4 separate regions of the Homo sapiens genome follow, and regions 1, 2 and 4 are each linked to region 3. The links come from fine-mapping of genetic effects on gene expression. A gene starts in region 3. Each other region holds a variant in brackets. All regions are shown on one strand. Distances are between the middles of the regions.

Region 1 (7,732 bases), 68 kb after region 3:
GGAAGAGAGCCCTGAGGGAAGGATGGGGGTGCTTGAGAACCTGGAGGGAGGGGCTTCAGAGTCTGCAGGTCCAGTTTCATGAGCCAACAAAGTTTGTTTTATTTTGTTTCATGTTTTCTTTTTCTTTTCTTTTTTTTTTTTTTTTTTTTTTTGGAGATGGATCTCACTCTGTCGCCCAAGCTGGAGTGTAATCTTGGCTCACTGCAATATCCACCTCCTGGGCTCAAGTGATCCTCCCACCTCAGCCTCCTGAGTAGCTGGGACTACAGGCATGCCACCATGCCTGGCTAATTTTTGTATTTTTTGTAGAGATGGGGTTTCGCCATGTTACTCAGGCTGGTCTCAAATTCCTGGACTCAAGCAATCCACCCACCTTGGCCTCCCAAAGTGCTGGGATTACAGGCGTGAGACACTGCGCCTGGCCTCATGTTTTCCTTTTTTTTTTTTTTTTTTTTTTTTTTTGAGTAAGGGTCTCTCTCTGTCACCCAGGCTGAAATGCAGTGGCATACTCTTGGCTCACTACAGCCTGAAAGTCCTAGGCTCAAGTGATCCTCCCACCTGCTTCCAAGTAGTTGGGACTACAGGTGCATGCCATCACACTGGCTCATTTCAATATTTTTGGTAGAGACAGGGTCTCCCTATGTTGGCTAGGCTCATGTTTTCAATTTTTAAAAAACATTTATGTATTTTACTCAAGCCAATTAGAGTTGGGTTTCTGCTACTTGCAACACAAAGTATCCTAACTGATACATGCCAAATACCAGTGCTATTTGAGTGATGAATGAGAAGCTAATACTTAACCTTCCCTTCTTTTTGCATCTGCTCTCTTCATACTTTCTATTGAATTTTGAATGAACTGCTTAAAAGTTAGTAATTTAAAAGTAAAGTTATGGCCGGGCGCGGTGGCTCACGCTTGTAATCCCAGTACTTTGGGAGGCCGAGGCAGGTGGATCACGAGGTCAGGAGATCGACACCACGGTGAAACCCCGTCTCTACTAAAAATACAAAAAATTAGCCGGGAGTGGTGGTGGGCGCCTGTAGTCCCAGCTACTCAGAGAGGCTGAGGCAGGAGAATGGCGTGAACCCGGGAGGCAGAGCTTGCAGTGAGCCGAGATTGCACCACTGCACTCCAGCCAGGGCGACAGAGCAAGACTCCGTCTTAAAAAAAAAAAAAAAAAAAAAAAAAAAAGTTAACTTTGGGAGCCCAAGGCGGGAGGATCGCTTGCATCCAGGCATTGAAGAGCAGGCTAGGCAACATGGGGAGATTCCCTTTCTACCAAAAAAAAAAAAAAAAAAATTAAAATTAGCCAGGCATGGTGGCATGTGCCTATAGTCCCATTTACTCAGAAGGCTGAAGTGGCAGGATCGCTTGAGCCCCTGAGGTCGAGACTGCAGTGAGCTGTGATTGTGCCACTGCTCTCCAGCCTGGGCCACAGAGCAAGACCCTGTCTCAAAAAAAAAAAAAAAAAAAAAAAATGGAAAACTGGCTGGACACAGTGGCTCATGCCTGTAATCCCAGCACTTTGGAAGGCCGAGGCAGAAGGATTGCTTAAGGCCAGGAATTTGACACCAGCCTGGGCAATAGCAAGAGCCTTGTCCCTACAAAAAAGAAAAAGAAAAGTAGCCAGGTGTAGTCCCCGCTACTGGAGAGGCTGAGGCAGGAGGACCACTTGAGCCCAGTAGTTTGAGGCTGCAGTGAGCTATAATTATGCCACTATACTCCAGTCTAAGTGACAGAGTGAGATCCTGTCCTAAAAATAATAAAATAATAATAATAATGGTAAAAAGTAAAACATAATGGAAATACCAATGCAAAACACTTCTGGACTTGTTTTATTACTTTGAATTTAAATATAATTTTCTTTCTTTTTTTAAAGTTTACTGTTTCTATTTTGGCAGGCATATTTGGTCAGAGGGATGAGCTGTAACTTAAGAGCAGATGCTGCTAGGTGCAGTGGTTCACGCCTATAATCCTAGCATTTTAGGAGCCTGAGGTGGCAGGATCACTTGAACCCAGGACTTCAAGACCATCCTGAGCAACATAGTGAGACCCCATCTCTACGAAAAATTTTAAAAATTAGCTGGGTGTGGTGGTGTGCACCTGTAGTTGCAGCTACTCAAGTGGCTGAGGTGAGATGATTGCTTCAACCCAGCAGGTCCAAGCTGCAGTGATCTGTGATCACGCCACTGCACCCCAGCCTGGGCAACAGAGCAAGACCCTGTCTCAAAAAAACAAAACAAAAAAAAGAGCAGATGCTTTATATTCATCAATGCGTATTGTTGAGAGGAGGGGGAGTTTGTCAGTCACGTAACATTCTGTTGTTGCAGTCAATTGCAGTCAATCGTATATTGTGATACAAAGTGCCAAATCATATTAATAATAGCTGGTAGGTAAATGCAGTCGTATACCTAGCGAAAGAAAATGAGACACAGTTCAAACCCAGTTTATCTGGCAGAGCCCATGTTCTTCTTACCCACAGGGGGAAAGAAATAACACAAAAGGAAAAGCTGTCTCATTCTCAATGTGTAAAAACTCGATGATGTACGTCATATTTTCTGTGGAGGGGCACATGCAGCATGTACAAGTTGGCACATAACCCTGGTTTTACTGAGAGTCTGCTGAGGTAGTGACAACCCTCTAATGGGCCAGCATCTGCCTCAAGGCTTGACTAAAAACCACCTGGATTGGACTTCTACCTTGCACAGCCCTGCTTAGCTCCCCTGCTCTGCAATAGATATCCCAAGGTGCTGCATGAACATTCCTTAGAATGAGGATTCTAGGAACAAATAATCTTAGGAAATATATGCTATAATCTGCTGCTAGGAAGTCACAGGAAACAGTGGAATATTAAAGGCTCTGAAAAGTTCTTCAGTCGAGACACAATTTTGTTGAATCCAGCATTTCCCAAATGTATATGACAATAGAACTTTTTTTTTTAAGTGAAATGTCTATTGCAATCACATAGCACTGGTGTCCCAGGAAATACATTTTGGAAAACAGTGACCCATAAGTTAAGCACTGCCGGTTTTGCATGTAACAAAAGCTTCATCCCAAGGCAGGACTACCCAATAGACCAAGGCAGGAATGCCAAAGAAATATTTTTTAAAGGAATTAGATTTTTTTAAAAAAAGACACAATAGTCATTTTAGGAAAAGCAGAATTTTGTTAAGTATATTTTATTATATTTTATTGAAAATAGAGACAGGGGTCTGGCGCAGTGGCTCACGCCTGTAATGCCAGCACTTTGGGAGGCTGAGGCGGATGGATCACAAGGTCAAGAGATTGAGACCATCCTGGCCAATATGGTGAAACCCCCTCTCTACTAAAAATACAAAAATTATCTAGGCATGGTGGCACGTGCCTGTAATCCCAGCTACTTGGGAGGCTGAGGCAGGAGAATCGCTTGAACCAGGGAGTCGGAGGTTGCAGTGAGCCAAGATTGCACCACTGCACTCCAGCCTGGCGACAGAATGACACTCCGTCTCAAAAAAAAAAAAAAAAAAAAAGGTAGAGATGGGATCCCACTAGGTTGCCCAGGCTGATCTTGAGCTCCCACCCTCAAGTGATCCTCCCATCTCAGCCTCCCAAAGTGCTGGGATTACGGGCATGAGTCACTGC[G/A]CCCAGACTTGTTAAATTTAAATGCTTGGGGGAGGAGAGGTTAGAATTATTTCAACCGTGAAGAACATATGTTTGGGGGATATTATTATCTTTTTGCTGTCTTAGACCCAGCTTCAGGCCTGCAGAGGATGGATCTGGGAGTTTGTGGCACTGCCTGTCGGAGGCCCTGTGAACTCAGCCTTTCTGTAATATCTGCCACACTGACTTGCCCCAACAGTCAGACTTTTGCCTTAGTTTTTCCACCTGGCCTTCCAGGCCTCCGCTGGAACTACAGTTCTTGTCTTTGGTGCAGCTCCTTCCCCCAGGAAAGTTTCATCTCTGGACAGTAGCTAGAGTCCTGGGGGCTGGAGCTGAAAAATTGTGCACTCTATCCCATATGCCCAGCTGCCTGTCTTCCCACCAGAAATCACCTCTACCCAGGTGGACTCAGAAGATGCCAACGTCTTACCAAACTTCACTGGCCCTCTCATACCCTTTGGACCCTTTGAGACTTCACAGAATTATGGTGTCCACTCTGGCCCCCACCTCTTCTTTGTTTTACTCACATGAGTTCCTCAGACTTACCCGCGTGGAAGTAGTAGCTGTCATTGCACATACAAACTCCCCTGCTACCTGCATACTCATCCAAAGCACAGGCTCCAACTCTGGGACCACTACTCTGGGTGTGTTTAGGGGAGGTTTGACTGGCCCCAGTTACAGCAGAGGATTTTGTTGTTTCCGAGGACCTGGGGAGAAGGCCTGTGGAATGAGCAGCTGTCATCTCATGTGACTGGATTATAGCAGTGGCAACACTGGAGGTTGATTCTGCCAGATGGGAAGGTGTCTGTGAGACTGTGTTATGATGTGTTCCAGACAACTTGCTTATCATGGAGGTGGTTGTTGGGGATAAGGATGCAGCTGTAGTTTTTCCTTCCTGAGTCTCAGATGTAGTTGTTCCAAGAAGAGTTGTCCCGAGAGTGGTTGTGTTTAGCAAGGTAGTGTGCATAACTTCGCTGGCTGTCATGGGTGAAGATTCTTTTATGCCAGTGGTTTTGTTCAGTGCTGTTGGGGATGTAGTTATAGCTGACTTCCCAGAGACAGTGGTTGCCATGGACCCGGATGATTGAACATGATGGCCTGGCGTGCTCTTTGCTGTTGGGGATGTAGTTATAGCTGACTTCCCAGAGACAGTGGTTGCCATGGACCCAGATGATTGAACATCACTGCCTGGTGTGTTCAGTGCTGTTGGGGATGTGATTGTGTCTGATTCCTGAAAGCCAATGGACACTGATGATTGTGTCCCATTGACTGTGGTGTTTGATGCTGATGGAGTTATAATTGGAGTTTCCTGATTCTGTTTTGGGGTCTCAACTGAAGAGGCCGTGCTGGATAAAGCTGTGGTTCTTGATATCCCTCCCTGGTCCTTCAATGTAGAAGTCATGATGGAATTTGGCAGCAGTGTACCCTTGGAGGTTGTGCTGATAGTTGTGTTTAATTTCTCTTCCTGAGTTTTTTGTATTGAAGTTGTCTGCTCAGTGGACCCATTAGAGCTGCTGTTTGTGGAGAGGTTGGAGGAGCAGCTGGTGTTGTATGCTTCTGGGACTCAGATGTTGATGTCTTGTCAGTTGTTGGTGAACTGTTAAGTACAGCTGGAGAGACATTGTCTTTCCCTTTGTTAAACAGAGTTGAAGTTGTAGATGAACACAATATAATTTCCTCAGGTGCAGAGTCTTCTGTGGAGTGTATTGTTTTTGACACAACTCCCCAGATTGTAACACTGCCTGTGAAAAAACAAATAAACAGAAGGTAATCTAGACTGGGTATTGTGACTCATGCCTATAATCCCAGCACTTTGGGAGACCGAGATGGGAGGAATACTTGAGGGCAGGAGTTTGAGACCAGCCTGCTCAACATAGCGAGACCCCATCTAAGTAGAGAAAAATAAAAATTAAAAAAAGAGGCCGGGCATGGTAGCTCATGCCTGTAATCCCAGCACTTTGGGAGGCTGAGGTGGGCAGATCATGAGGTCAGGAGTTCGAGATCAGCCGGGCCAACATGGTGAAACCCCATATCTACTGAAAAAAAAAAAAATTAGCCAGGTGTGGTGTCCCATGCCTGTAGTCCCAGCTACTTGGGAGGCTAAGTCAGGAGAATCACTTGAACCTGGGAGGCAGAGGTTGCAGTGAGCTGAGATCATGCCACCGTGCTCCAGCCTGGGTGACAGAGAGAAACTCCATCTCAAAATAAATAAATAGATAAATAAATAATAAAAGAGAAAGCAATCTACCTGTTCCTTCCACCAAACCAGAGTTATTTTCAGATGTTATGACTTGTCAAATATTCTTACTGGGAGACTCCCTAAAAATAATATCAGGTCGTGCACAGTGGCTCACGCCTATAATCTCAGCACTTTGGGAGGCTGAGGCGGGAGGATTGATTAAGCCCGGGAATCTAAGGTTATAGCAAGCTCTGATTGTGCCACTGCACTCCAGCCTGGATGACGAAGTGAGACCCTATCTCTAAAATAAAATTATATATATAAAATATATATACATATAAATATATATTATATATACATATAAATATATATTATATATACATATATAAATATATATTATATATAATGTAGTGGGTGTTGATTTACATACATATGTAAATCTTACCAGCTCACATTTATGTGCCAGCTCTGTGCCAATAGATTTCAACAGATGTATACCAGGGAGAGAGAATTTTACTTGTGCAGGTAACTATGTCTCATTCCACTCAATGGCTACTCTAGACAGTGCAAGTCAGTAAAAGACAGAAATCTGTTATCTCAATTGGTGTTTGATTTCTTGATGCCTTGTTTGATATTAGTTTCCTACTGCATTGAATATGATTCTAGTATTTAAAGATACGATTTTTTTCTTTTTTGAGACAGAATCTCGCTCTGTCACCCAGGCTGGAGTGCAATGGTGTAATCTCAGCTCACTGCAACCTCAGCTTCCCGGGTTCAAGCCATTTTCTTGCCTCAGACTCCTGAGCAGCTGGGACTACAGACATGAGCCACCATGCCTGGCTAATTTTTGTATTTTTAGTAGAGACAGGGTTTTACCATGTTGCCCAGGCTGGTCTCAAACTCCTGACCTCAAGTGATCTGCTTGTCTCAGCCTCCCAAAGTGCTGGGATTACAGGGATGAGCCACTGTGCCCGGCCTAAAGATATGAATTTTTTGAACAATATGACCCCTAACTGCAAGCCGAGTGTTTCATTGAGTGTCATAGCAGTCAAGGATCATTTTGATATTGTTCAAGTGTCACCCTGCCCAGGTAAGGTGCTGCTCCAATGCACAGGCACATTAAATCCTTACAACCAACCTGTAGAAAAGGACTATTATTTCCATTTATCAAATGAAGAAACTGAGGATCAGACAGGTGAAGACATCTGTCCAAGGTCACACAGCCAGGAAGTGGTGCCACTGCATTTGAAACAAAGTCCATCAGACACCAGAACCCAATGCCTTCCCTACCACACTGCACTGCCTTACAAAAACACAGCTTTATTCTCATGGTTGAGCCAGCTGCTCTCTCTAGAAAGGCCCAAATCAATTATGTTGGGCTGGATTCCTTGGAAACCTTCTTCTTTCCCCTGGGTAATGGGCAGAAATAGGCCCATCACCTGATGTGCTGTTTTTGCATTCTTGGCAGTTTTCTTTCTTTCTTTCTTTCTTTCTTTCTTTTTTTTTTTTTTGAGACAGCCTCACTCTGTCACCGAGGCTGGAGTGCAGTGGCGTCATGTTGGCTCACTGCAACCTCTGCATCCTGGGTTCAAGTGATTCTCCTGCCTCGGCCTCCCAAGTAGCTGGGACAACAGGCGCATGCCACCGTGCCCTGCTAATTTTTGTGTTTTTAGTAGAGATGGGTTTTTGCCATGTTGGCCAGGCTGGTCTCGAACTCCTGGCCTCAAATGATCCACCCGCCTCAGCCTCTCGAAGTGCTTGGATTATAGCCGTGAGCCACCGTGTCCAGCCTCTTGGCAGTTTTCAAAAGGCTAACTCAGAAAATTGGAGGCTGGCCAGGCATGGTGGCTCACGCCTGTAATCCCAGGATTTTGGGAGGCTGAGATGGGAGGATCACCTGAGGTCAGGAGTTCGAG
Region 2 (7,732 bases), 66 kb before region 3:
CATGCCTGGATAATATTTTTATTTTTAGTAGAGACTAGGTTTCATCACGTTAGTCAGGCTGGTCTCGAACTCCTGACCTCAGGTGATCGGCCTGCCTCGGCCTCCCAAAGTGCTGGGATTACAGGCGTGAGCCACCGCACCCAGCCTTATTTTTGTTTTTATTAAAAACTTTTTTTAGGCCGGGCGCAGTGGCTCACGTCTATAATCCCAGCACTTTGGGAGGCCAAGGCGGGTGGATCACTTGAGGTCAGGAGTTTGAGACCAGCCTGGGCAACATAGTGAAACCCCATCTCTACTAAAAATACAAAAATTAGCTGGGCATGGTGGCACATGCCTGTAATCCCAGCTACTCGGGAGGCTGAGGCAGGAGAATCGCTTGAACCTGGGAGGAGGAGGTTGCAGTAGGCTGAGATCGTGCCACTGCACTCCAGCCTGGGCGACAGAGCGAGACTCTGTCTCAAAAAATAATGATAACTTTTCTTAGCGATAAGATCTCTCTGTCACTCAGGCTGGAGTGCAGTGACACGATCATAGCTCATTGCAGCCTGGGCTCAAGTGATCCTCCCACCTCAGCCTCCAGGGTAGCTAGGGCTACAGGCACACACCACCATGCTGGCTAATTCTTTTAATTTTTTGTAGAGACTTGTAGAGTCTTTTTATGTCACCTAGGCTGGTCTAGAACTGCTGGCCTCAAGCAATCCTCCCACCTCTGCCTCCCAAAGTTCTGGGATTACAGGTGTGAGCCACTGCATCCAGCTCTGAGAGGCTCCATTTAGACCTACACTTGCACACAGACCTGCCCCTGTGCTCTGGAGACCATCAGCAGGTGCTCATGCCCATACACACGTGTGCACACCAGCTAACATTTGGTCACAAATCTCCAAGGTGACAGCAGAAAGTTGATGAGCCAGCAATTTAGGTTATAAGGCGAGCATTTTGGGTGTGGTGGCATGTGCCTGTAGTCCCAATTACTTGGAGAGTTAACGCAGAAGGATCACTTCAGCCCAGGAGTTCAAGGCTACAGTGAGCTACTGCACTTCAACCTGGGCAACAGAGCAAGACTCAGTCTTATAAAATAAATTAAAATAAAAAGATAAAAAGTTAGGCCAGGCACAGTAGTGGCATATATCCATAATCCCAACATTTTGGAAGGCCAAGGTGGGAGGATCACTTCAGCCCAGGAGTTCGAGACCAGCATGGGCAACATAACAAGACCTCAAAGTACAAAATAAAAACTAGCTGGGGCTGGGCACGGTGGCTCACACTTGTAATCCGAGCACTTTGGGAGGCCAAGACGGGTGGATCATGAGGTCAGGAGATCAAGACCATCCTGGCTAACACGGCGAAACCCCGTCTCTACAAAAAATACAAAAAAATTATCTGGGCGTGGTGGAGGGCACCTGTAGTCCCAGCTACTTGGGGAGGCTGAGGCAGGAGAATGGCGTGAACCAGGGATGTGGAGCTTGCAGTGAGCCGAGATCATGCCACTGCACTCCAGCCTAGGTGACAGAGCGAGACTCTGTCTCAAAAAAAATAAATAAATAAAAATAAAAATAAATAAATAAATAAAAACTAGCTGGGTGTGGCGGCGTGTGCCTGTAGTCCCAGCTACTTGGGAGGCTGAGGCAGGAGGATCACTTGAGCCCAGGAGTTCAAGGCTGCAGTGAGCTAAGATCATACCACTGCACTCCAGCCTGGGTAACAGAGTGAGATTCTGTCTCACAAAAAAAAAAAAAAAAAAAAAAAAACGCAGGGGGAGGTTTCATTGTTTCTCTTACTGGACTCTGGCAAGACTCCAGTTTTGTGGCTGAGGACCCTGATGCTTGAACAGAAGAAATGGCCAGTTAGTGAGCAACTAAGGAACCCAGCTCTGCTTGAGGCCAAAGCCCATCTTCCCTGAACAGAGTTAGAACAACGCTTGCCCAGTTTTCGGCTTTCTAGTTTTCAGCTCCTGGGGGACTAGACCTAGGGCTCTGTGGGCAGAGTCCCAGCCCCCCTATAGACCTGTGGGTCAGCTGCATCTTCCCTTCTGCCTTCTTCCTTTTCTCTCCTTCTGGGCTCAGGCCTCAGCTTCACCTTTGAAGGACCCTGACCTAGGAGATCACCTGAAAGTCAGGGAGAGGGATGGATGAGGGGCTCTGATCAACCAAATCAGAGCTGAGACTACCATGCCCATTTCACAGATGAGAAAGCAATGGCCCAAAAAGGCCAAGCGATTTGCCTGAGGTTCCCAGCCTGACTTGGGTAGGGGTGGTTATTCTGCACTTTAGGAAGCCACTCTCACCACCCTCTGACCCTCATCTTTCTTATTCCTCTGCAGGGAGCTGGACCACAGTGGGACAAGGACACCTCCAGACAGGTTGCCAGGGCCCCACATGGAGGAGGCAGGTGGGCCCATGGCCCGGGCCAAGGCCCGAGTGGTAAGTGCCACATTGACATGGCGGCAGCGGCCCCCCACCCAGGAAGAGATCAAACATGGTTTTCACAAGGTGTCCCTGGTGTCAGGGGCCCAGATGGAAGCCCCGCAGAAGGAGATGTTTGAGTTCAGCCGTCGAGAGGAAGTGGAAGTCAATGGCTTTGCAACACAGGAAGAAGAGACTGTGAATTGCCAGGGCCCTCGGGATACAGCTGGCTCCAAGAACTTCCAGAGCCATGGACCCATCTTTTCCAAGAAGTACATACCACCTCCCAAGGAGAAAAGGCCTGAGGGGAGGCTGAAGGAGGCTGTGGACCAGAGTGATGGCAGCCGCCAAGCTCCCAGGACTGAGCCCCCATGTGTGGGAGCTATGGCCAGGACTGAGCTTTTGGTTCCCCTGCCTGGGCCCCGAGAGCCAAGTCCCCACCCAGGTGTAGGTCTCACCAGTGGTAGCTCCCGGAGCCTCGAGGAATACCGAGTGACACGCACTGTGCGGACCACCACAGTGGTGGGAGGTCATGTGGACCGGCGGATGAGCAGCTCTGTGACTGTGAGGCCAGTGTCCTCAGGCGAGGCCCTGCCACGGGGCCGTCAGGTCTCCCGCATGGTGCCGCCAGTGGTGGTGGGCTCCCCACCAGGCTCGCCCAGCCGCAGCCAGGCCGTGAAAGTGCTAAGTAACCTCGTGCCTGCTGGGCACAGCCCCCCTGCCAGTCACCTGCCCAGGCCCACGGCTGGCGGGCCAAGGAGCACAGGTCTGGGCAGCACAGTGGGGGCAGCCTTGAGGCAGCTGCCTGAGACCGGGACAGCAGAGCTTAAAGACAGCTCTGCCCTGGCCTCTACAGGCATCCCAGCCAGTGCTCACCTGCCTAAGAATCAGGATGCCCCTGCAGCCTGTCCGGACAGAGACCAGGGCAGAGCCCCGGATGCCAGGGCCTGTGAGCTCTGGCAGGTGCTGGGAGCCCCCAGTTCCACTGAGCTCCCTCTCCAGACTTCTCAGGGTCAAGCATCAGTCCCCTCCTCTCCCAGACTCGAGACCCATGTCCCCTCTCCTGGCCTAACTCACCCTGCAAAGCAGCCTGTGGTGCCCACTCACCCCGGGGCCCGGCTCACTCCCCTTGTTCTGCCCCCTAAAAAAAAGGACGGGCCCGTGGACCCCCCTGCTGCCACCGTCCTGCCCATGGTGAGGAGCGAGCATGTGACAGTCCCTGGACAACCTCCTGCTCCATCCACTACAAGAAGGAAGGATGTCCCCAGCCCAGGAGGTCTTTCTGCTCCATCGTCCCCAAGGAATAAGTTTGTTCAGAACTCTGAAAATGTCCCTGTCCTCCCCTTTACCCAGAGGGAGGTCGTGAAGGGCCCCGGTGCTCCTGCTGCCTCATCTCCCACCCGGAAGGAGGTGGTGCAGGGGTCCAGTGCTTCTGCTGCCTCGTCCCCCACCTGGAAAGAGGTCGTGAAGGGCCCTGGTGCTCCTGCTGCCTCATCTCCCACCCAGAAGGAGGTGGTGCAGGGGTCCAGTGCTCCTGCTGCCTTGTTCCCCACCTGGAAAGAGGTCGTGAAGGGCCCCGGTGCTCCTGATGCCTCATTTCCCACCTGGAAAGAGGTTGTGAAGGGCCCTGGTGCTCCTGCTGCCTCATCCCCCACCCAGAAGGAGGTGGTGCAGGGGTCTGGTGCTCCTGCTGCCTTGTCCACCACCCCAAAAGAGGTTGTGAAGGGCCCTGGTGCTCCTGCTGCCTCATCGCCCACCCAGAAAGAGGTTGTGAAGGGCCCCTGTGCTCCTGCTGCCTCATCTCCCACCCAGAAGGAGGTGGTGCAGGGGTCTGGTGCTCCTGCTGCCTTGTCCCCCAAGTCAACTGAGGTTGTCCAGGGCCCAAAAGGCAGCAGTAGCATCCAAAAAGAGGCTGTCCAGGGTATTGCAGGCAGCCTTGCCCCGCCCCTCACCAAGGAAGAGACTGTTCAAGGCCCAATTGCTCCTGCCACCTCACTCCCCAAACAGGATAAGGGGGTCCAGGACTCTGAAGGGAGCCCCATCTCATCTCTCACCCAGAAAGAGGTTGTGCAGG[A/G]CCCTGATGCTCTCCCTGCCCCATCTTCCTCAGTGGACAGGGTGTCCCCCAGCCCAGGAGGCACCCCTGCCCCAGTGCCAACAGGAGCAGAGGCCAGCACGGAGTCCCAGCTTGTCTCTGATCCCACCGAGGGCAAGACGTGCACAGAGACATCAAGGGAGGAGGATGAGGTGGCCCTGGCCGCTGACCTGGAGATATTCCTGGATACGCTGCGGAGCATGGAGCCCCCTGAGATCCTCCGCACTCACCGGCTGCCACGAGCCCCTCGCTCCTCCTACCTGTCCATGTACGCCACGCTGCCTGCCATTGAGGAGGACCAGCTGGGGCCATGGGTGCTGGGCCCCGGACCCCAGGAGGTGCCTTCACTGGAAGAGAAAGAGGAGGAGGAGGAGGAGGAACCAGAGAACCCCTATCTGAGTGACGATGAGAAGCTCCAGCGCAGGCAGGAGAAAGCTGGGCCCAGCCCCTCCAGGGACCTCCACCCTGCCAGACCCACCCAGGTCTCCTGCTCTCCTCTGGAGATGATGAAGAAGCATGTAGCAGGAACCAAGGGCCCCCACTCAGAGCTGGGATTGGAACTGCAGGGAGGCAGCAGGCCCACTTCCCGTCTTGGAGGCAGCCTTCTGTTCGGCAGTCTGGTGCCTACCGCCAAGGAGGCCTCCACCCCGGAACCGCTGGGCACAAAACTATCTGCTCTGCTGCCCCATGGGGCACCGGGGCTCAGGAAGGTGCCAGGACAGTTGCCCCTGCTTTGCAGTGAAAGATCATCCCCAACGGAGAAGCTTGCCTGTTCCCTGCCCCTGGAGGGGTGGGTAAGTGAGGCCTCGGGTGGGCAAGGGAGGTGCCTGGCCTCACCTGGGTCAAGGCTTGAGTGGTGTGAAGAGAGTGGTGCTGGGAGTCAGAGTCTGGGGGCAGAGGCTTCTGTCTGAAGTCTGGTTCAGTTGACCTGTGCAAGCCACATCTCTCTGGGCCTCAATCTCCCTATCCCTATCCCTACTGTGGGAGGTTTGTACTGTGGATTCCAAAGGGTGTGGGGGCTCCAAGATCCTGGGAGCTGAGGAAGGCGGGTGATGAGCACCAAGCTCCTGGGACAGGGTGATGAGGCCCTTGGGGGTTGGGAACAAGTGTGAGCATCCTCTATGCGCCAGCTCCTTGCGGGTGGAGGTTAATAGGGAGGATGTGGGATCCTTGGAATGGCGGGTTGTGGGGAGGCAGAAAAGAGGTGACCCCACAGGACTTCTTTATCACCTGCCTCCGTTTCAGAGCCCAGCCTTAAAGACCCAGGGCAAGCTGAACACCAGGCCTGGAAAGGTAGGGTTGTGGGGGCAAGTGGGTGGGGGCAGCAGGATGCAGGGGCCTGGGGTCAGGGCCTGAGGACCCCTTCTGTGCCTTCTCAGGTGATCTTCTTCTCAGAGTCTGGCTGCCAAGGCAGTGGCAGGGAGGTCTGGGGAGACATCGTTGATGCCTCAGGCTGGGCCCCCGTAGCCTCCATAAGGGTAGTTCGAGGCTGGTGAGTGGGGAGTGCCCAGCAAGGCACTTGGCTGTGAACCTGGGGGGATGCAGAGGGGAGTGAGGAGTGACCAGTCCAGCCTGGGAGAAACCCCATCAGCTACCCAGCAGCCCTGGGCACATCCTCCTCCCCATCTGTGATCCTGGAATCTCTGTGCCCACAGCTGGGTGCTGTACGAAGAGCCAGAGTTCCGGGGTCAGAAGCTGGTCCTGCCTGAAGGAGACATGGAACTCAGAACCCCAGGGACAAAGTGGAGTCCCCAAGGCATCGGCTCCCTAAGGAGGGTTGTCTGGGTGAGTGAGTTGGAGGTGGGAGACGGCCTCGAGTGCCTAGAGTTGAAATCCCCGAGGCCAGGAGCAGTGACTCACGCCTGTAATGCCAGCACTTTGGGAAGCCAAGGCAGGTGGATCGGCTGAGGACAGGAGTTGGAGACCAGCCTGGCCAACATGTGAAACCCCGTCTCTACTAAAAATACAAAAATTAGCCGAGTGTGCTGGCATGCGCCTGTAATCCCAGCTTCTCAGGAGGCTGAGGCAGGAGAATTACTTGAACCCGGGAGGCAGAGGTTGCAGTAAGCCTGGATTGCACCACTGCACTCCAATCTGGGCAACAGAGTGAGACTCCGTTTCAAAAGAAATTCCTGGCAGAGATCTTATGGGGTAGTGGGCAGAGGGGCTTAATGTGGACTGGTCCATAGATTCTTGACCGTGGAGCTGACTGGGGAAGAAAGAGATTCTGGGGAATGGGCAGCCTGGCTTGAGGAGTCAGGGCCCAGGCAGAGGCCAAGCTCAGCTTGGGAAAGCAGCCTGGGGAAGTTTGAGTGGATGCTCAAGCAGGAAGGGGACAGAGCAGCAGAGACAAGATGGGAGGGAACGTGGGGGTTACCTGCCCCCCAGGAGCCAGCATGCAGGCCCCCAGTCAGACCCGAGGTGCCAGGCATGTTTGCTCATTCATTTGCTCACAGATGCTCACTCATGTCTAATATGTGCCAGGCACCGGTGCCAGGCAATAGGCAGTGGGGGGAGATCTCCTCTTTGCCCTTCAGGACTTACAGTCAAGCTAGGCTGTGAGGATTGGGTTTGGAGCAGGGACGCCATATAGCCAGACTAGGGATTTATAAACATCCCACTGGCTGCCAGGTGGAAAAAAGAGGGATCCTGGAGGCAGGGAGACCAAGAAGGGCTGTGATTTCCAGCCAGGGGCACCTCTAATTTTTGAGGAAGGGCTGTGTGGTTTGAAAAGTTAACATTATAATTTCAAAGGCCAGGCGCAGTGGCTCACGCTTATAATCCCAGCACTTTGGGAGGCCAAGTTGGGGGATCACCTGAGGTCAGGAGTTCAAGACCAGCCCAGCCAACGTGGTGAAACCCTGTCTCTACTAAAAATACAAAAATTAGCCAGGTTTGATGGTGGGCGCCTATAATCCCAGCTACTCAGGAGGCTGAGGCTGGAAAATCGCTTGAACTCGGGAGGCGGAAGTTGCGGTGAGCTGAGATCATGCCATTGCACTCCAGCCTGGGCAACAAGAGTAAAAAAAAATTATAATTTCATGTGCTGTGCTGTGAAAACAACAACATTGTTTTCACCGCACAGTAATAAACTACTGAAATTAAGCTTGACACGAGAAGGAAGAGCAATGACTGTAAAAGCAGTGTCTATCAGGCATTTTGGTTCTTTTGGTTTGTTTGATTTTTTTATTTTTTTTTGAGACAGAGTCTCGCTCTGTTGCCCAGGCTGGAGTGCAGT
Region 3 (7,732 bases):
ATAATGCTGGCAGTTGCCCAAATGTGTCGCCACCTCTAGGAAGCTTTCCCTGAACCCAGGATCTTTGTTGATGCTGTCTGGAATATCCCTGCATCCATTCCATTTCTAAGGACTCCCATTCATCCTTCAGTCACAGCTCAGTTGTCATTTTCCGAGGGAAGCCTTCCCTGACCCCAGGCTGGGGTGGGCTTCCAGCCTGATCATCGTCTGTGTGGGGTTCTGTCTCCATTAGACTGAAACGGGGGGTTACCTGGGGGGAACCATGGGGCTGCCTCCCAGAACCTTCTTCCCCTTCCATTGCCTCTCCTCTGGCCTTGGTTTATACAGAACACCCCCTCCCGCTTTGCTCACTGGTCTCATCTGTCCCTGGTCAAGGAAGTGTCCCTCTAAGGTTTGTGGGGATGACTCAAATGGGGCCTAGGGCTCTGTCCACCCTCCACTGATACCTTCCAGAACTGCTGCCCATTGCCTGCCCGGATCCAGGAGATTGTGGTGGAGACGCCCACCTTGGCCGCTGAGCGAGAGAGGTGAGGGCGGGATGAGGAGGTGAGGGCCTGGGGGCGTTGGGTCACCGCGTGCTGATGGCCTCTGGGCTGTGCAGGAGCCAGGAGTCACCCAACACGCCGGCACCCCCGCTCTCCATGCTGCGCATCAAGTCTGAGAATGGGGAACAGGCCTTCCTACTGATGATGCAGCCTGACAACACCATTGGGGACGTGCGAGCTCTGCTAGCGCAGGCCAGGTGGGTGCAGGGCAGGGCCAGGGCCACAGAGGGGCTCTGGTCCCACTGCCCAGCCTGATCTGCTCTGCCTGGTCCCCAGGGTCATGGATGCCTCTGCCTTTGAGATCTTCAGCACATTCCCGCCCACCCTCTACCAGGACGATACACTCACGCTGCAGGCTGCAGGCCTTGTGCCCAAAGCAGCACTGCTGCTGCGGGCACGCCGAGCCCCGAAGTCCAGCCTGAAATTCAGTCCTGGTCCCTGTCCCGGTCCCGGTCCCGGCCCCAGTCCCGGTCCCGGTCCCGGCCCCAGTCCCGGTCCCGGTCCCGGCCCCAGTCCCTGTCCTGGACCCAGTCCCAGCCCCCAATAAAGCACCCGCCCCCTCAACCCGCTGCTCCGCCAGGCTCTTGGGTGGGCCATCTCGCCAGGCACGTAGGAAAGGCCTGGGACCAGCTGGGCCAGGGAGGGGGCGGTGCCGACCCGCCCCTTGGTAACTCGAGCCCCGGCTGGCGGGCCTGGCTGCTGGGTCTTTGTCTTCTAGGTTCCTCTTTCTCCCAAGAAGGGCTAAGTGGATCCTGTGAAGGGAGGGATGCAGTGGGGGGAAGGAGCTGGCCCCAGCTGGGTTTACATTCTCAGCTGGGACAGCAGAGCCTCACTGTGTATGTGTGCAGCCAGCAGATACCTGTGCACAGGCACAGACCCACCAACTCGTGGGGACACTTCAACACCGCACAAAGCCATTTTGCCACTAGACCCATGCCCCCAAATTAGCAGAACTGCAGCTGGGTACCCACCTCCCATGATACACTCATTCTTAGCCATTGTGCTCCAACACAGGCGCATGGGATGGCCACACTCACTGACAGGCATGGAGATGTGCACTACACACCAAGGCACAAGCATGATATGGACACATGCATGTGAACTGGAGGGTGGCCCACCCAGACATCTCCAGAAACCACTGGTCCATACAGGTATTTGTGTGTCAGACATATCCAAACACATGCACTAACAAACACAGAGGTGACAGTCACAAGAGAACAGCTCAGCCACCCTTCCCACAGAGCAGTCTCAGCACAGTCACAACTACCAACCTTGCCCAGGGCAGGGACCCAGGAGGCCCAGGCCACAACCAACCAGACACAGTGCCAATGGAACAGGACATCATTTAATTGCCTCTAGGGTCCTCCTGGGAGAGGGACTGCGGGGCCTTTGGCAGAGCTCTGGCTGATGGAACCAACAGAGGTGCCCATCAGCCAGTGCCAGGCAGGATGGCGGCCCCAATGCTTGGCTGGGGGCAGCCAGCATTTGGGGCTGTTGCTTAAGACAATTTCTGAGACTAATGGGTAAGGAATGTTGCCTTTAGATGGAGGAGAGGGGACTACATTTAGAGAGGAGGGAGGAGAAGTGGCCTGCATTGGGGGAGGGACTCTAAGGTTAGGTTAGGAATGACAGGGAGTTGGTCAAAAGGTCCTTCATGGCCAGGTGAAGGCTGGGGGGAGTGTGGTGATGGAGTCCAGCAGGGGAACTCTGGACAGGCTTGACTCAAGCCAGCTTCAGGAACTCCTGCAGCGTGTTTTGTTCCACAGCCTCCACGAAGAGCTCATAGTCCTGGAGAAGGGGAGGCGAGGGGTGGTCACCTGAATGCAGGGGGCCCAAGTGCTTTGTGGCAGATATGACCCTGGCTAGAGTCCTCTTCCAACACTCCCCCCACCCCCCCGTCCCCCAGCCCATACCCCACAGTACTGGTCCCCGTTGACAATCTGGGGTGGGGTGGCCTTGGGGTTGCCTGCCAAGGCTCGCATCTCATCCCTCAGGGCGTTGTCCTGGGAGATGTCCACTAGCTGGTATTGGATGCGCTTCCCATCCAGGATTCGGGTCACCTCGCTCTGCTGGGACTTGATCTGGGGACAGAGGGTGGGTAGGGGTTAGTGGATAGGCTGGAGGATTTATGGGGGAAATGCTGGGCAGGGTGAGAGAGGCTGTGACCAGGAGCTTTTGTCCCCCCATTCCCCTCCACACTAGGGGAGGGTTCTGGCCTCTAGGAGTTGGGAGGATGAGTCAGGCTTGAGGTGGTGCAGGATGAAGAGAGGGATTATCAGCCACGGGGGAGGGGGTCAGAGTGAAGGGAAGTGGGATCAGGCTCAGGGTGGGGAGGGGAGGGGAGGGCAGGCTGCGGTCGTGGTCAGGGTCAGCCCGGTAGTGGGAGTGCAGAGAATGGGTGTGGGGTTGATGGGGGATGGGCACGGGAAGTTCATGCCGCGGCTGCAAAGGACCCAGGATGCCCGATGAAGACATTCAGGATGGGGCCTCGGGACCGGGTCCGGGAGACCGTGCCCAGCACCTCGCCGACGCACTCCCCCCACCCCGCCCCCGTCCTGGGGGTGGGTCCCGGGCGCTAGGGTCCAAAGCACCGGGATACAGCCCTGCGCTTTCCCCCAGCGCCAGTCCGGGCGCGCACTTACTTCGCGGGAGCCGGTGACCGACGTGCTGTAGACGCGCAGGCCGCTCATGCTGGGGGTAGACAGACGGGCCGGCGGGCAGAGGGCGGCGGTAGCGGCAGCTGCACTGCCGGGAGACGACGCCGCCGCCGTGCTCGGGAGCGGTTTCCTTCCTGCTCCGCCCGCCAAGTCATCGCGCTCGGGACCAATGGGCGGCGCGGGCAGGCGGGGTGGGACCTGCGCGACACCGCCCCGCACGCCAGAGGCCCCTTCCCTTCCCCCTCGGTTACCAGGCGCGCAACGGACCCGTCCCACGCAGGGCGCCCCTTCTGCGGCTGCCCTGATCGTCCTTTTCGGCCCTTCCCTGATCTGGAGCTCAGTGTGAGACTGGGGAGGGGCCTGGGTGGCAGGACAGGCCCGGGAGAGGGTCTGGCAGAAGCCTCCCTCTCCAGCCGCACACAGGTTTGGTGCATCCAACTCCCCAGCCACGAGAGCCGCTCTCTCCAGGAGGAGGTGCTCTAATAGCACAGGGAAGCTTGGGGCTTTGGAAGGTTTGAGCTGCTTTCAGACCCAAAGTTCTCTAAGAACCTTGCTCCAAGGGATCCCTCGCTCCACCACCCAACACGCACCACTAACCCTAGGGGATAGGAAGCATAGGACAGCAGGAAGAGCCCATGCTTAGAGATTTTCCCCCAAGTTCCTCTCCACTCAGGTGGGAAGGTTTAGACAAGGAAGGGTGATAGCAGGACGCAGAGGCCACACCCTCAAGGAACCAGATGGAGACCAAGGCTGACAGCTGGAAAGCGTGGCGGTAGAGGATGATGTCAGGACTCGAGAGCCTAGGCTCAAGCTGACCCTTAAGATCCACCCCAGGTCTTGGGGTGGTCCAAGCTCAACCCCAGCTCCATGCTGCAGATGGCATTCCCAAACTGCTACTACTCCCAGCAAGAATTCAGCGGTTGAGGGGGCAGACTCCAGCAACGAGCCCAACTTTGGAGACCTAGCTGTCTGGCACTCAACATCATGCTTCTCAGATGTCCCCCTGGTCCAGGGCTCAGGCAGGTTAACAGCCCAGAAAGACAACCCTTGCTCTGGTAAAGCCACTTCCTCACAGCAACCCAGAGGCTGCCAACTTCCTGAGAGGACTGCTGAAACTTTCCAGTGACAAACTTCTGTTATGACTCAGGGAAGGTTTGCCCAAGAGAAAGTGAGTGGGAAGAGATCTGGTTCTATAGAACGACAGAGGAGCAGAGGTGGCAGAGATAGATAGGGACATGAGGCTGGCTGGACCTGCCAAAGGTTCCTCCACGCTGCTGCCTGGGGGACCTGGCTGAACACCCAGGTGTTTGGCTCTAACAAGCCAAAGTGAGGGGTAGAATAGCGTGGTGGTGGTGATGGAAGGGTATGGAAAACTGAGGAGTCTGTTAAGATACTTTATTTTATAATCAAAATACGCAATACAAACAAATGGACATAACAAAGATTCATATAAATAACTGGTTATAAACTTTATGAGGAAAAATACCCGTCAGCATGGTGGCTGGGCTCCCAATGCACAGGGTGGAGACCAACCAGGCGGCTCTGCCTTTAAGCAGCAGGAGCCCAGAGGCTGAAGGGCTGGCTGGGTGGGGCTGCTCTGAATGGAAGGGATAAGTCACTCCATAAATAAAACACAAACTTGTAAAAACACTTAAGAAAGAGCCTCATTCAGGCCCAGGCATGAGGTCCAAGATGCTGCCAACAGCCCAAAGCTTAGCAAAAATCTTGTAGTGGCTGACTGGCCCACACGTGGCCCCTGCCTGGCCTGGCTCCAGATCTAGAGGAGGCACGGCTGGCCCAACAACCAGATACTAACAAGTGTGAGATGCTCCCTAAACCAGGAGGCAAGAAAAACCAGAGGGCAAAGGTCCCTCACTAAAGCCCCAGAGAAACAACCCAGGAAACACTAAAAGCTGTACTTTAAAGCTGACTTGTACTGGGTACTCTGAACTTTCAAGGAGGCCAGAGCAGGAAAGGGAAAGGAATAACCCCCACCACCCCCAACACAAGAGAGGCACAAATTAGAGGGCTGGGCACAGGCTGTAGCCCTGGGTGAGGGGGTAAGCAGCTTGACAGTTGCTCTGTGGTCTCTGGGATATAATTCTGCCCAAGGCTAGAACCACAGAGAAGAGTTTGCACTCTTAAGTCCAGGAAGGGGACTACCTGGAAGGCCTGAGAACAAAGGAGAAAGTTTAGCACACTAAACACATGGCCAGGACCCTAGGGACACAAGGCAGCTGGAGAGTGGGATCTCTTGTTAAATGGCATGGTAGGCAGATTAGAGTCCTGGCTATAATCCCTAGGGCCCCAATCCTAGTAGTTACGTGCTAACCAACACATTACCCTGAGGCTTCTGGGAGAACAAGAGCCCTGAGGAAGAAGCAGTAAGACCAGGCATGAGAAAACCCAGAAAGCCAGCTCAGTTCCCAAGAAGGCTGGCACATGGGGCCTGAGAATTCTTAAATGGCCATTGTCACTGGTACTTGCTCAGCCTTTCCAGGCCCCTCTGATGAGCTCTCTAATCAGCAGGACCAAGGTGTGAAGTGGGAATGAACATGGATCCATCCCATTGGATGGAGAAGAAAGGTGGACAGCCTGTTCGTCTCTCATGTCAGCCTAGGGCTGGGAACAGTTTGTGAGGACTTATCTGTTGTACCTGCCAAAAGTTAATTAGTAACTCACCGTCTAGAGTGAATTAACAGGACAAACGTAATCCAACATGCCAGTGTGGGTAGGACACAGTTCCCTAATCAGCCCTTGGCCCCCAGATGCAGGCTCTCCCCTCCCCTCTGAGACCTCTCTGGGAATAGCAGACAAGAGAATGTCAGGGCAGAAACCTGCTGGACTAGGCTCTCAGCAGCCCAGCTCCTCCCTGGGGGAATCCCCCAGAATTCCTCACTGTGTGACACAGTTTTCTCCCATGTCCTGGGCATATCTGTCTGACATGGTGGTCCTTAAGTCCTCAATGTCACGACGCAGCTGTTGAACCTCTTCTAGTTTCCTCTTGATCACATCTGGCTTCTGCAAATCTAGCTGAGTCTCTGGGTGCTGTGCTGCTGGGGAGAAGAGCATTTCAAGAGAATGTTAGTTATGAGACATTTTCATGTGGAGGGTGCAGTATGGATAGGCAGTATCTTGAACCCACAGTCTTGGGACATGCACTTTAAAAAAAGCATCTGGGGACAGTGGGTTAATTTGCTGCTGAAGGTCCACTTTTAGTTTGTCCTGCATGCAAGTACCCCATAGCTTGTTTCCAAAAACAGATTTGTGAACACCTACTTTGTGAAACAAATAAATGTCCAGAGGGCAGTGGCCAGGACTATGTACTCTGTCTACATATTACCACAAGAATATGGGAAAGCAGGATGGGGGAGAGAAGAGAAAGAAGGACCCTCCTTCCTGGGCCCCAGACTGGTCTGAGGACTCACAGTGAATGCCCAGGAGCAGGGAGAGATTGGGGTCATGGCCCTGGGCCCTCTGGGTCACAATGCTACAGACAGCCTGCAGATCTTGAAGGCAACTGGCCAACTCCTGGTGCAGCTCAAGTGCCAGCTGGGCCGTGTCTGGTGAAGGTGGAGACCCTGGTTGGGCCTGGCGCAGGTGTTCCTGGAGTGTCAGATTCTTCTCAATCAAGTCCTGGTTTTGCACTGAAAGCTGAGCAGACAGATGGGTAAGCACATTAACTCAGGCCCAGGGAGAGGAAGAGTATCTGTGCATGAGTGTGTGGGTGTGGAAGGGATGGGTGAGTCATAGGCAGTGTCCCTCCTTCCCCAACCCTACCCCTGCCAACAGGCTTTTAGCACTTCTCCCACTATCAGTATCAGGCCTGGTTCTTCCTGTGGGTAGGTTGGGCCCACAGGGCTCTAGCACTGGAGAGGAAGCCAACCCTCAACTGGTTCTGAATCATCAGCATCCAAGTTTCTGTTCAAGAACCAGAGAAGATGCTCCCGCCCCTAGGAACTCTATCTCAAGCCAGTCCCTCAGCCAACTCTGTTAGCCAGGCTATTAGAGAAGGCTTAATGTGAACCGTGAAATCTGAGGAGACACTGGTTTCAATCTCTCCCTGCCACCCTGACAAAAGTGGCCACCAGCCAGCCTGATCACAGTGTGTCAGAGGAATAAAGAGAGTAAGAAAGACAATATGACAGCTAGTAGCCACTAGGTGGGGGGCTGGAGAAGCTGGAACCTGGAGGATCCAGCCCTGGAACAAGTCCTGCCTTTTCAAACTCTCACCTCAGTGGAGTCAGACTTTATTACAAAAACCATCTATTCATGTATGTCTGTCTGTTTCCCTCTCTTCCTGACAGCTTAATCCACTTTCCTTCCCTTCCTACCTTGATTGTATTTTTATAGAGTCTGAATAGAGTCCGTCCTTCAGTCCCAGGCCCTCCACCCACACTGGGCCATGTGACAATCCTAACTCAAGGAGGTTCCTTCCTAGGCACTAGGCCAGTCAGTGAACTTGGTTGCCCCCTGCTGACAGCTCTGTTTAGTGCATGAAGGCCACCAAATCCTCAGTCTTCTTGAACT
Region 4 (6,617 bases), 73 kb before region 3:
TGTGGGAGATAAAGTAATGGATATGGGACATCCCGCATGGTTGGGGCCCGGACTTTCAGGAAATGTGACTTCCTAAAGCTGGGATCTTCTGGGGAGGGATGTAGGGGCAGAGGGGCCTCGCTTCTCTCCATTCTCTTCTTTGGCCTGACCGCCTTCCATCTTTGGTCCCTCTTCCCCACTTCCTGGCATGGCCCCTCAGGGGTGAGGCTGGGCTAGTGGCTTAACCTCCTGCCCCAGTTTCCTCATCTGCAGTAAGGACCTGAGCCCTGAATTGAACAGTGAAAAAGTGTTCTTCCCTTGGAGGAGTGAGGGCAGCCTCCTCTGGAGGTGGCTCAAGCAGCCATGTGTCTCTCTTGGGTCTTGAATACCATGAGTAATTGCCAGTGTTTAATTGCCTACTTGTCATGTGTTGGGCCCTCTGCATGGACTATCTTGTACCATCTGTACCACACTCTCAGGAGGCAGGTACTGTTATTATCACACCCATTTTCCACATGAGGAAACTGAAATACAAACGGTACTGCAGCTATTATAGGAAGCAGCAGGGCGGAGATTCAAGCCCAGGTTGCCTCGATCCAAGCCTCCAGGTTCATCACTGTACTCTTGTCTCTTGAGGTGGTCAGCCCCTGGGGAATGAGAGGCTGCATCTGTTTCATAGATGAGTAAATTAAGGCATTTGGCAGCAAGGATCCCTGCTAGGCGGAATTTTGACCTCCTCTGTTGCCAAGGAAACAGCCCATCTTTTAAAACGGGTCGTTTTGGGGGCAGTGTCCATCTGGGTCTGGGGTGCTGAGCCCTCTCCTCTTATCCCCACAGCCAGGCTGGACCCCAGGGGAAGACAGCAGAAGAGGTCAGGTGTTGTCCCATTTCAGGGGAACCCTCTTCTCTGGCTCCCTTATATCCCAGGTACATCCTCCCAGGTGTTCTGTCTCAAGCTGGGAGGGTACAAGAGAGGTGGCCGCAGTCTCTCTGTTAGCTTGGAATGGGCAGAGGCCATGGGCACTTGAGGCAGGCCTTCCCACCCAGCCCTCAGCCCCAGGGCGGGGAAGCACCTCAGGACTGCAAGGAAGCTGAGATCTCCAGCCTTTGGGGGGCATGGCCGGCCAGGCCCTGGGTGCCTTGTCACCTGGGAGGGAGTGCGGCACCTGAGCGTTGGGAGCCCTCGCTGGCTTGCTGTGTGATCTCAGTCATGTCGCCGTCTTCTTTGGGCCCCACTTTCCTCTTACGTAGAATGGGAAGGGGTGAGTTAAATGCTGAAGGGCCTTCCCAGAGCTCTGTCCCTTTGTCCAGCTCTGGTGGCCTTAGCAGCCTCTCCCTAGGGCAGCTTACCTTGGTGTCAGAGCCCTGTTCAGCTTCCTTGTGACAGGGAAGATACCAGGTACCAGGGGTGCCTGGAGGGCAGGGGGAGCTGTCACTATGCCCCTGCCTCTCTCAGTGTCTATCTCTGTTTTCACCCAGGCCCAAGGCCAGAGCTGCTCAGAATGGGACATCCATGTAGGGGACCATGATGATTTCTGGATTTGGAAGCAACAAGGAATCTCGGGGGGTCCTGCTCAGTCCCTGGGGCGCCTACAGAGGCCAGCGGTGGGCAGCGCCTTCGACCTGGCCAGCCATGCCTCCCTGGGGCCTGAGAGCCTGGCCCTGGAAGTGGCCTCAGGAGAGTCTGCTCGTACCAGGCTCCCCCAATACCCAGGGCCTGCTCCTGGACATGGGGAGCAGGGATCCTCAGGCTGCACCTGTCAGCAGTCTCCACCCACAGCTTCAGAGGTCCCTCTGAGGCCTGAGCCACCCAGCAACCTGGAAGACGCACCCCTGCTGCTCCACCCTGCATCCTTCCCCAGGGCAGAGGGGACAAAGGGCAAGCCCGCCACCCCAGGGACTGCCTTGCCAGAGCCTGCCCAGACCCTACACACGCGTCCCTCTTCCAGGAGGACCCGCTACTACATCACTGTCACCCTGCTGGGGCACAGGCAAGCACCAGGGGAGGAGGGTGAAGAACCGGCCCAACCAGCTCCACACCTCTGCGGCCCTGAGGAATCTGAGGGCTGGTGGGAGCCTCCCCAGGGGCCACGCCCCATCACAGGGTGCCGGACGGCCCCGCCTCAGGAACCCCAGCTGAGAGCCCAATCGCATCAGGGGAGCACGGCCCAGCAGCAGGAGCTCCAGGCTGGCTGGACACCTGGGTCCCCACGCAGACTGTGAGTAGAGGTCGGTCTGTGTGTGGAGATGGGAGGGGAGACTGGCCTGGCTGCCCTGTCTTGAGACTTTGCCTATTCCCTGGGCCTCTCCAGCTCTAGGCCCATTCATTCAGGACCCTGAGCCGACTCTGCCTTCCCTCCCTGCTCCAACCCTGCCTTCCTCTCCCTCCCTTTGCCCACAGGCTACCTCCTGGAACCCACTGCTTCTCACCCCCACTGTCCATCTGAGAAAGGGGAAAGTCTGTCAGGGAGAGGATGGGCAGGAAGGGGGGTTGCCTTCTTCACAGCA[T/C]ACACCACTCCCCAGTTCTGTTCAGGAGGCCACAGACTCAGCCTGGGAATTGGCACCCAGCCTAGGTGCTGGGTGTCCTGAGGCGAGTTGCTTAACCTCTCTGGGCCTTGAGTTGTTGAGAGGATTTGGTAGCTGAAAATGAGGAAGGAGGAGGTGGCTACAGGAATATACTTTGAACTCCAGAGACTGGGGGTGCCAAAATAGCAGGGATGCTTATTAATTACGTCTCAGTGACAGCAATAATTACCCCACCTGGCTCTGAGCTGGAAGCCAAAGGAGTGGGTGTCGAGTTTCCCAAGCCTAGTTTTATTTGTGTTGAAATGACTCTCCTAAATCTGCCTGGGGGGCGCAGAGGTGGAAGGATATGTCCCCCAAAGCTCATCAAGGAGGGATGAACATGGAACCTCCCAGGGATGACCCTGAAGAGGAAATGAGCCTGGGGTGGGGTTTTGAAGGGTGCTTAAGGATGATGGGGTGGCTGTCATTTGCAATTTGTTTTCTAAGCATAATTTTATTTAATCTTCCCAACCATCCCATGAGTAGGGACTGATCCCAACCCCTGTCACCTAATTCTAGGAGGCTCTGAAAGTCACTTGCTCAAAGTCAACTAGAAAGTGAAGGGGCTAGAATCTGAACTTAGGTTTCTATAACTCCAGTGCCTGTGCTCTAACCACTGCTCCATCCTGCCTGGAAGAAACCTCTTTGGCCCTGTGCAGAGAGTGGAGGGTTGAGTGAGGTTGCTGTGTGGGCTCCAGGGTTTTCTAGGCTCCTATGGCGGTGGATTGGGCAGCATTGTAGTAGCAGAGGCAGAATCAGGAATGCTGGGGTCCTCCAAGCAGGGGTCAATGTGACTGCTTCCGTGCCAAGGAAGAGGGAGATGTAGGACCCAGGCTGGCTCTGAGACCTGCTTGGATGCCCCAGAAGTCAGGGGCTGGGGGACAAGGGCTGCAGAGAGAGGGAAGGGGGGTGGAGGAGGCTACCTTGGAGAGGGGGACGGGAAAGAGAAGTAGGGTTAGCTGGGGGGAGGTGGTTTCTATCTGCCACTACCTGGGTATTTTGGGCCCAGGTGGATAATGACAGACTCAGGTGGGAGGCTAGGGCTCACTTAGAGTGGGGGGCAGGTGACCTCCAGAAACATCATCCTTCTATGTCCCCTTCCTGGGAGAAGGTTCTCTGGGCCAAGATTGGCAAATATGGGAGTCGAGAAGAAGTGAGACATAGCTGGGACTGCCAGTGGGAATGTGTAAGATACGTGTGCATCCAAGCGTGTGTGTCCACGTTCAGGGGTAGGTGAATTTCAAGGGGAAGAGAGCTTGGGGCTGTGAATTGACTGTGTGTGTATTGTGAATGTGTGCACGTGTGTGTCACTGTGCCTGTGTTTCTGTCTGTATGTGATTTGTGTGTCTGTTGTGGCTCTGAGTGCCTGTGCGTGTTTGTATTTCTTGGGTGAGTGTATATTTGTGTGTGTGTCCCTGGTTGTGTATGTTTTTATAGGCTTCTAGGTGTATCTTTGTGCCTGTGTGATTGTGGGTCTGTGTCGGTATCTGTCTGTGTGTCTGTGCCTGCGTCTGTGTGACACAGCATGTGTTTGCCTGCATGTGGGCCTGTGGACTGGTTTGGCCTAGTTTGGGGGTGACTCACAGGTAAGTGGGGAGAATCCAGGACTTGTTGGGTTAGACAAGGCTCTTTCCCACACTCCCCCCGCCCCCTCCTCAGCCTCTCCCTTCCCAGCTCCACACGCCTTGTTTGGAGGTCACAGGTCACGCTGCCAACAAATCCACTTCTGGTCTGGGGCCCTGCAGAAGAAAGGGCTCTGGGAATGGCCCCTTCTGCTGGCCCAGGAGAGGCATCCTGGGTCATTGTATTGGGGTATGTCTTCAGAGCAAGGACAAAAGGGGGCATCTATAGGCAGGCACATTCCAGCAGAGTCTGAAGGACATTCTAGCACTCATGACTGTTCAGGGACGGGGCAGGTGAACTGTCGAGTGGTGACCTCCCTGTCCCTGGAGGTATGCAGGCAGAAGCCAATGACCACATGCTTGTGGAATGACTGGCTATCAGGGGTGTTGTCCAGGGGTTGGGCTGGTTGAGAAAGACGTTAAATTCTGATTGGTAGGAGGTCATCGACAATATCTGATCTCATGATCGGCCGCCTCCTTTAACATTGCTCTCCTGTCGCTTTCCTGATGCCTATGGCGCTTTCCAAATGTCCCTGTTTTTATGTCTAATTCCTTGGCCCCTGGCTTCTTAATATGCCACCTTTCATGAGAAAGTTGGCTCTGGTTCTGGTTGAGTCTAGCCAAGGCCTAGCACATCCCTTGATACAATTAGCACTGAATGAGTGAGTAATTGAATGAATGAATGAATGAGTTAGAGCTCAAGCTTTGCCACTTACTATAAGCACCATCAGAGACAAGGAAGCTCGGAGAGTGGAAGGCAGGTGGACAGGGGCTTAGGAGGTGCTCAGCGAGGGCGTCAAACTTCATTTGGGCAGAGTCCCAGCGAGGAGGGCAGGGGTTGCATGAGGAAAAAGGGAGCTCCCTAATGGGGACAGGGGAGTGGGCTGGGGCCTCAGTGAGAGGCTAAAATCCAGAGCCTTTGGTGTCTGGCTGTGTACTGCTCTCAGGAAGCCCTGGCCTGGGAAAATGACCAGGGCTCTACCTAACCCCTCCACCTTCCAGTCCCCCTTGGACCCTGTCCCTGACACTGTCATAGCCACCAGCAGTCCTGGAGTCAGGTCAGGCTTCCCGGGGCTTCAGTCTCTTTCATCTCTGCCCCTCATAAAGCCTGAGTCACTGCTGTGGCCACAGGGAAGGGTCAAAGTTCTGAATTCCACCAGCTTCTCAGGAAGGAGGACAATGGGAAATGGGGGAGGGGAGTGGGGGCAGTGGGTCCATTTCCTGCCCAGAGTCAGGTCTCTTGGGGAGGGGAGGGTACCTCATGGAGAAGGCCCAAAGACTCGGGCTGAACAGGCTGGCCTCTCTGGGGTTCGTGGGGCCTAAGAATAGGATTGCCCTGGTCAGTGTAGCTTGGAAGTCAGGGAGTGGGGGTGGAGACGCCCTCCAGGACTGACATGGCTCCCTGTAAATGTAAACCCCCAAACCAGAGACTCAGTTATAGGATACATATATTAGGGAGTTTGGTATGGTGAGTGAGCACTTAGGGTTGGGGTTCAAGTCTTGTTTCGGTTACTCTGTGACTTTGGACAAGTTTCTTAACCTCTCTGAGCATTTAAAAAATCTCATCTGCAAAATGGGAAGGTATGATCTAATTTATTAATAATTTATTCTTTATGAGGTCTCAAGCTCCTGGGATTCTTCTGAGGCTTCAATGGGACAATGAATCTAAAGCACTTAGCAAGGTGTTTGGCAGAGTCAGCCCTCCCCAAATGGCTGTTTTTGTTGTTGTTGCAACTAGTAAAACAGAGAAATTCACCTGAGAGTTCCTAGGGAGCTTAGTCTATTTTCTGTTGCTTATAATGGAATACCTGAACCTGGAAGCCCAAGGTCAAGGGGGTGCATCTGGTAAGAACCTTGTTGGTGATTCTCTGCAGAGTCCCGAGGGGGCTCAGAGCATCACATGGCAGTGGGGCTGAGGTGCTAGTTCAGGTGTCCCTTCCTCTTCCTATAAAACCACTGGTCCGGTCAGGCACAATGGCTCACACCTGTAATCCCAGCACTGTGGGAGGCGGAGGTGGGCAGATCTCTTAGGCTCAGGAGTTTGAGACCAGACTGGGCAACATAGTGAAACCCCAACTCTACAAAAAATACAAAAATTAGCCAGGCATAGCGGTGCAGGCTTGTAGTCCCAGCTACTCGGTGGGCTGAGGTGGGAGGACTGTTTGGGCCCAGGAGGCAGAGGTTGCAGTAAGCTGAGATTGTGCCACTGCACTCCAGCCTGGGCAACAGAGCAAAACCCTGTCTCAAAAAAAAAAAAAAAAAAAAAAAGCCTCTAGTCCTACTCCCATGATCACTCATTAATCCATTAAACCATTAATCTATTAATCCATGAGTATATTAATCCATTCATGAGGCATAGCCCTCATAACCCAATCACTGCTTAGAGGCCCCACCTCTCAATATTACCACATTGGGGATTAAGTTTCAACATGAGTTTTGGAGGGGACAAAT

What was found. PIP is the estimated chance that this variant, and not a neighbour inherited with it, causes the effect. A credible set is the group of variants that fine-mapping cannot tell apart.
Region 1: its variant is the best candidate, but not a certain one, in a credible set for the expression of SH3BGRL3 in whole blood (TOPMed, PIP 0.50).
Region 2: its variant is the best candidate, but not a certain one, in a credible set for the expression of SH3BGRL3 in whole blood (TOPMed, PIP 0.79).
Region 4: its variant is the best candidate, but not a certain one, in a credible set for the expression of SH3BGRL3 in whole blood (TOPMed, PIP 0.57).

What each region holds. Positions count from the first base shown.
Region 1 is chr1:26,207,362-26,215,093 of GRCh38, reverse strand. No RefSeq gene overlaps it. Among named protein-coding and RNA genes, the nearest start is that of CATSPER4, 21 kb to the right of the region's middle. The variant G/A (reference allele first, on the strand shown) is at 3,620.
Region 2 is chr1:26,341,301-26,349,032 of GRCh38, reverse strand. CRYBG2 (crystallin beta-gamma domain containing 2) reads left to right here. Exons shown (of 20, transcript NM_001039775.4): 2 at 2,321-5,288; 3 at 5,740-5,787; 4 at 5,874-5,986; 5 at 6,150-6,279. The coding sequence starts at 2,376. Among named protein-coding and RNA genes, the nearest start is that of CRYBG2, 9.0 kb to the left of the region's middle. RefSeq lists an enhancer at 1,953-2,706. The variant A/G (reference allele first, on the strand shown) is at 4,477.
Region 3 is chr1:26,275,659-26,283,390 of GRCh38, reverse strand. SH3BGRL3 (SH3 domain binding glutamate rich protein like 3) reads right to left here and starts at 3,305. Exons shown (of 3, transcript NM_031286.4): 1 at 3,188-3,305; 2 at 2,459-2,626; 3 at 1,869-2,333. The coding sequence starts at 3,235. The coding sequence ends at 2,268. It overlaps CEP85 (centrosomal protein 85), which reads right to left. Exons shown (of 14, transcript NM_001319944.2): 13 at 6,631-6,856; 14 at 4,583-6,255. The coding sequence ends at 6,098. UBXN11 (UBX domain protein 11) reads left to right here. Exons shown (of 15, transcript NM_001389556.1): 13 at 454-527; 14 at 602-742; 15 at 822-1,109. The coding sequence ends at 1,092. RefSeq lists enhancers at 2,010-2,896, 2,897-3,784, 6,335-7,534 and silencers at 3,024-3,473, 2,950-3,521.
Region 4 is chr1:26,349,627-26,356,243 of GRCh38, reverse strand. It overlaps CRYBG2 (crystallin beta-gamma domain containing 2), which reads left to right and starts at 2,114. Exons shown (of 20, transcript NM_001039775.4): 1 at 2,114-2,208. RefSeq lists a silencer at 4,615-4,813 and an enhancer at 6,029-6,617. The variant T/C (reference allele first, on the strand shown) is at 2,488.